Linked DNA regions of Homo sapiens: region 2 is reported to be linked to region 1. The links are microRNA targets in miRTarBase. Many come from high-throughput screens and were not tested one by one. Region 1 holds a microRNA gene; the other region holds the end of a gene's coding sequence.
Evidence for each region. The annotated mature microRNA hsa-miR-3664-5p reads AACUCUGUCUUCACUCAUGAGU and lies in region 1 at 1,428-1,449, opposite strand. An mRNA with a match to its seed (bases 2 to 7 or 8) in the 3' UTR can be bound and repressed. Matches are read on the target gene's strand: a 7mer-m8 pairs with bases 2 to 8, a 7mer-A1 pairs with bases 2 to 7 and ends in A, and an 8mer does both.

Region 1 (3,411 bases):
CCCAAGTAGCTGGGACTACAGGCACCCGCCACCACGCCCGGCTAATCTTTGTATTTTTAGTAGAGACGGGGTTTCACCATGTTGGCCAGGCTGGTCTCGAACTCCTGACTTCAGGTGATCCATCCGCCTCAGCCTCCCAAAGTGCTGGGATTATAAGCATGAGCCACTGCACCCGGTCCCATTTCCTCTTTTTATAAGAATATCAGTCCTACTGGATTAGGGCCCAATCTAATGACCTCATTTTCAGCTGATGACTTCTGTAAAGACCCTACCTCTAAACAAGGTCACACTCTGAGATCCTCAGGGTGATACTTCAACATATGCATTTGCAGGGACACACTTCAAAGGGGAGTCAGGGGTCTGGGCTCGCCTGGTGGCAGGCTCTGCAGGAGATGAGTCTGAGGGTCCAAGAGGAGGTCCAGGGAGCGCTCTGCAAGCCACCAGCCCCGAAGATCACTGGCACCATAGGAGCAGGGCAGGATGGGCGGGGGTGGGGAGCAGAGAGCAGAGCAAGGGCAACCACAGAACCTGGGGCCACACCACCTTCTGAGATGAGCCACATAGCCTGGCACTGAGCCTCCTTCACGTGCTGAGGCCACATCTGTGTGCCATGGAGCCTGTGAGCCCCTGGAGGGAGAGGCTGTGCCTGGGACCCTGCGGATTCCCCAACACATTTGCTGAACAAGCAGGGCAGGGAGAGAAAGGAAAGTGAGGTCGAGACAAATATTATAAATATGACCATATCCCTGATGGAGAAGAAAGTCAAGAAAGAGTTCATGTTGAAAGGCAACACGGGCCAGACACACCTGGTACTCAGGGGCCCTGCAGGGTTTTACAGCAAACTGTGGCCACATGGGGGCTGGGAGGGGACAGCCAGGAAAGAGGCACAGTCCCCATCTGAATTTGACTGAGAGACTCTTTGAAGCCGTCTGAGATTTCCATATACGATTTCTATTAATATTTAAGGCAAGACGCATCCCATCCTCCATAACAACACCGTCTTGAAAGAAGCCTTTGAACTACTTGAAAGGTAAACCCAGCATTATTCTTGGATTAAGAACTCTTGTTCATTCAACAAATACAGCCCCACGACGACATCCCTGAACACCAGAGCCAGAGGTGCCTTGGCATGTGCACGCTGCCTGCTTCTGCAGCAGTAGGATGATGCGTGTGTGGCCTGTTACGTCACACCGCCAGTGGGTCTGGGCAGTGTCCCATTGCCAATTGCGGGAGGAGTCCTTCAGGGCACGGATGAATAATCATGCTAAGTAGGATAAATAAAAACTATAAATAGCCTCAAATCAGTTCAGGTCAAGTACTACTGCCAACGAGCTACGGAGAAGGCATTCGCTTTTCAGATCTTTTTGCAGATCCACATTGAAGGTAGGGAACTCTGTCTTTACTCCTGAGAGCTCGTGTTGGAAGGTACTCATGAGTGAAGACAGAGTTCCCTACCTTCAAGTTTACAGAGGAGACGGGGTGCACAGTGGAAAGGAGGGGAAAAAAACCCCACACGCATGAAGAGGAAAGACAAGTAGGATGCAGGCTTGGAGGTGGAGGCTCGGCGGGACGGGGAGAAAAAAGGACAAGACCCTTCCCTAGAAGCGCTTGGTGGACACAGTGGGTGCAAACGACCAAGTGGCTGGATGGAGGGAAGAGAGACCCTCAGATGGAGGGAATAGGGGGCCCCCATACAGAGGGGCCCCCCACAGACCAGAGTCAGGGGCACACAGGTCCGTGAGCTACGTGGAATGAGAGATGGGTCCCTGGACCACATTACTTCCGGCTCCCTGGTGTATCTCCTCCACGTTCTGGCCACCTGCGGGTCCCTGTTTTCCTCCACACTGACCACTTGAAAACTGATGGGTGGCAATTTTCACCCCTCATTGTCCTAAGGGTCGTGGGGGCTGCTTTGCTTGGTGCTGGAGTCTGGGGCCACAGTGGAACATGGCATTGATTGCTAAGAGGAAGGGACCCCACGATGCCCTGTAGAGCCCAGCTCCTCGGGGCAGGAGGAGCACATATCCACTGTCTGCCCTCTCCCCACACTCATGACCTCCACCTCCCCCAGCCCCAAACATTACAAAAGCTAAAGACATCCTGGGCACCTGTGAGAAAGGAAGAGCGGAGGTAGTTCCCACGTCCATCCTGGTGCCTCTGCCTCCCGGGTGGCGACCCTCAGGAAGGTGAAACCTGCAGCTTGGGCCCTGCAGTTTATAGAATGATATGTTTGTGGTTCCCTAAAACAAAGAGCCGTTGCCACAGCAACCGTGGCATCCCAGCACTCAGAGGCTATTCTCAGACACTAAACAATGAGTTTTGCCTTTCAAATGCATTTGATACAATTTGCTTGGAAGGCATTAACATCCTCTGACAAAACCCATGAGGAAGAGGAGGGCAGGTGAGAGCTGACAAGGTCGAGACTTGCAGGGCTTCCAGGAATCACACCCATTCATGAGACAGGAGGGCCCAACGGCCCCAGACACTTTCAATAGGCAAACAGGAAATGGGAAACAGCAGAGGGGAGGCAGGCAGGATCCCTAACCTTCCAACAGCAGTTCCGTGGAGGAGGAGGGGCTGCCCAGAGGTGAGGCAGTTGGGATCCCTAACCTTCTAGCAGTGGTCCCATGAAGGAGGAGCGGCTGCCACACACCCTTTCGGGGCTTCTTCAGGAGAGACGTTCCACAGTCCCATCTGGGGCAGTTCTCTTCTTCAGGGTCACTGCAAAGATGGCAGCACAGGCCAGAGCCCGCAGCAACCACTTAATCCACCCTGCTCACTCTGCAAAGGACATTGAGTGCGTCCCCTGCTCACAGCCAGCCATTGCTTCCTCCATTTACCATTTTTTTTTTTTTTGCCAGTTCATGAACAACTTTGCTATTGTTTACAACGATCTCATGGGATTAGAATACCAAACAGTGATGCCAGTGAGAAGACCAAATAACCTTCATTCCTAGCACCAGCCTCCTGTCACTAGCACGCTGGGCAAGCTGCCCTCAAAAACAGCTCCCGGGCGTCAGTGACAGGAACACGTGTCATCAGGAAAAAGGCATGATGTAGGCAGGCTGGGGGCAGCATCCCAATGCAAAGTACATTTTTGAACAGACTAAAGAACATGTGAACAGTACACAGAAATTCCTCCATCTAGCCATCTATCCATCTACCTATAGATCCATCCATTCATCCATCCATCCATCTTATCTATCAATCCATCTATCTAATCTATCCTATCTATCCATATCCATCTATCCATATCTATCTAATCTATCTACCTACCTACCTAATCTGTCCATCCATCCATCCATATCTATATACTCCATCTATCTATCCATTCACCCATCCAGCTATCCCTCTAATCTAATCTAATCCAATCTAATCTAATCTAATCTATCTAATCTATCTAATCTATTT
Region 2 (3,411 bases), not on the chromosome of region 1:
AAACTTCCAAGGCACTAATTGAAAGGCTGATGTGTTCATAAAGATGAATATGAAGTAGAGCAGGAGTTGATTACATGGACTGAAATGAACTAATGGAAGACTGAAATAATTTGTATGGCTTTTGTTGTTTGAAATATTGCTACTTCTTTTTGTTTTTTCAGAGTCTGAATAATCTTTTTATTTTGAGCTATTTATAGCCTTGAAATACACTTTAAGTGTATTGAGTATTCTAATTTCTCCAGAATTTGTAAACTATTTATGAATATTCTTAATTCATGGCATTTGTCTGTATAAAGTTAATAACCACGTTTTCTTTTGTAATAGGGCACAATTGAAACCGGTTACTTTCTCAGGACTTTGACTGAAATGGCCTTGTGAAATGTTCTAGCAAAGCCAATCTAGGAGAGTCTATATGGACAATGATTCTTGTTGCACTTTGTGTGGGTAATCAGGCCCAGTATATGGGACTGCAGTTTATTTTGAAGTTAGGTCGGTTCTGCTGTGATTTGTCTTTGGTGGAAGTGGTAGACTGGAGACAGAAATATTGTATGTCCCTAAATTAATATAGCTCCCAACAACCAATCCCTCATTATACCTTTAACTGCAACCACCAGACACAACGGCTAGGAATAACAGCAGAGGTAGGAATGGGAGTTAGCGGGATTGCAACTTCCCTATCCTATTACCAACGCTTGTCCAAGGATTTTATGGAAAGCCTGGATAACATTGCTCAAAGTATTGTCACCTTACAAATTCGGATAGGCTCCTTGGCAGTGGTCGCTTTGCAAAATCGAAGGGGACTAGATCTCCTAACTGCTGAAACAGGTGGCTTATGTATTTTCCTAGAAGAAGAATGCTGTTTTGATGTCAACCAATCAGGATTAGTAAGGGACACCACCTGAAAACTAGCTGACTGGGCCTCTAAAATATGACAACAGCTGGGGCACCTAAAGGGCACTAAGTTGGGTTTCATGGCTCCCTCCCTTGGCCAGCCCATTATTAATGATTATATTTGCCTTGGTTTTTGGACCATATCTGTTAAATCTTTTAACCAAATCCATTTCCTTTTGCCTAGAGACCACCAAGTTAGATGATCATGTGACAAGATTTCTAGCCAGTTTCAGGAGAAGACACCACCGGCCATCAAGAAGCTACCCTGTCTCCCCTAGACAAAGCAGGGTGAGAGTTACGTGATCTCCAATAGGTAGGGACTGTGTCCCAAGTTAGCATGAAGCAGTTACAGAAGAAAGACCCTCAGTCTCTCAGCCTCCCATAAAGATTTACGAGGATCACGTCTCTCAGGGGGAAAATGAGGCAGGAGAATAGGGTCTGGAGACAGGGAACCTAAGGCTGATTCACATTGACTTCCTAGAACTGAATCAAAAGGAAAACCCCACCTCTCCATACCTAAGTAACAAAAGGATCAGAGGCTACTCCCTTTGCAATCCCCTTGCCTTTTCTGCATTGCAGATGAAAAATGAAAGTGCCTCTGATTGGTCCCCTCCTGCAACCAATCAGACTGGTCATAGGCCAAGTCCTCATTTACACAGGAGTATAACTTTGTAACTTCACTTCAGCCTCTGATTGGTCACTTTCTGCACCAATCAGACAGGTCACGGGCCACTACTTCATTTACACAGGGTGTACGCCAAGTAACCAATGGCAAACCTCTAGAGGATATTCATTGCTTTGTGCGTTTTGTTCAATTATTTGTCCAAAATGCCAAGAACCTGGACACCCTCCACCAGTAACAGTTTGACCAGTTATTTATTGTATTACTTAGGACTGCATTTGGCTGCATATAAAAGAAACCTGACCAAGGCCTAATTAAGCACAGTGTTTATTCTTCTCACTACCAAGAAGTCAGAGGTCAGCAATCCAAGCTGGTGTAGCAGCTCCTCCAGGCATGTCAGCAAGGAGCCAAGCTCTGAGTCTTTTTACTAACATGACCCAAAGCACATGGCTGCCTTCCTTATGCCTAAAAGTGGCTCTGGTACTCAGGTTTTATCTCTGCACTCCAAGTAGGATGAAAAGATAAGAGCAAAGGCTCATGTTTGCCAAGTCTGTCCTTTTGTAACAAAAAACCCAGCAGCTTTATCAAGCAGAATTCCACCTGTATTTCTTAACTTGCCAGAGCTGAGTCTCATGGCCACCCTTAGCAGGAGTTGGGGAGGTATTTTTAACAAGGCACATTATCATCTCCCCCACCCAAAGTGGAGCTATTGCTAATGAAAAAGATACAATGAGATGTTTATGAAATTATCTGTAGCTATTAATGTCAGGTTTTTGAAATTTACTGACCTGGAAGAATACTCGTAATGCAATGTCAAGTGAGAAGCAGGACAAAGAACATTTGCAATACAGTTGTATTTATAAAATTTTGTTTACACACAAAAAATGTATTTTGCTTAAAAATATAATTTACATATATATACAACCACACAAGGGAAATAACAAAATGTTAATACTAGCTAATTTCTATAGAGTTGGCATTTTAAGTCAGAGGGGTATTGATGAATAGATGTAGTTTATTAAATTTTTTTCTCTATTTCCTAAACTTTCTATAAAGAACTTGTAGTATCTTTATAATAGGAAAAAATGTGATTTTAATGAACACTCCATATACTTTCAAAGTAGACTAAATTCAAAATATTTACACTTACTCATTTTCATCTTCGTTGTCAAAAGAAAGGAGGCTACTATTTTTAATTTGTTTTTGTGAGTTCTTTTTGACCGAGTCCTGATTTACTTCATCTTCATTTGGCTTCTTCTTTTTTGAGCTTGCTGTTAAACCTGAATATTTTTCATCTGAGGGATGCTTGACTGGTTTTCGATATATGATTCTTCCATCGGCTGGAGTTGGTTCTTCATCTGAGCAAAAACAGAATTTTTAAGAACTTTCTTCTCCTCATTATTTTGCCTTTACCTTAGAAGCAAATAATAAGAAAATCTCATATTGTATTTAAGGATATCCCTGAATCTGATTCAGTCTGGTCTTCTCCATTGTTTCTAGCTATATTGCCCTCAAGGCATGCAGTTACTTAATAAAAACTCACATGCTAAAGTATTCTATAATATTGTCAGTTCCCAATTACAATCAGGTTGTATTTTTAAGTAGTTTGAAAAGTGACTGTTTGGAACTACAGCATTTTCCCCTAAAGCAATGTAGTAAATGTTCAGAAATAATGAAAAATATACTACATATCATACCAAACTTCAGGCAGTAATGAAATACACCTTTTTTGACTGGTTTATAAGTCTAACCATCTATTTAAAAAAAAAAAATAGGATGCTTTTACTTAAATTCACACTTAATCCTGGTAACAACCCAATAGGTACAATTATTTCCATTTTACTGATGAGGAAATCGAGGCTGAGAGGTGTAATAACTTGCTCAAGGTTACACATCTG

Region 2: the mRNA of KIAA1143 is a reported target of hsa-miR-3664-5p. The part of its 3' UTR that is shown has no 7-base or 8-base seed match.

The regions. Positions count from the first base shown.
Region 1 is chr11:70,870,900-70,874,310 of GRCh38, forward strand. MIR3664 (microRNA 3664) reads right to left here and starts at 1,469; the gene lies at 1,371-1,469. The region is part of intron 11 of SHANK2 (SH3 and multiple ankyrin repeat domains 2); the gene reads right to left.
Region 2 is chr3:44,750,682-44,754,092 of GRCh38, forward strand. It overlaps KIAA1143, which reads right to left. Exons shown (of 3, transcript NM_020696.4): 3 at 1-2,871. The coding sequence ends at 2,660. Among named protein-coding and RNA genes, the nearest start is that of KIAA1143, 9.2 kb to the right of the region's middle.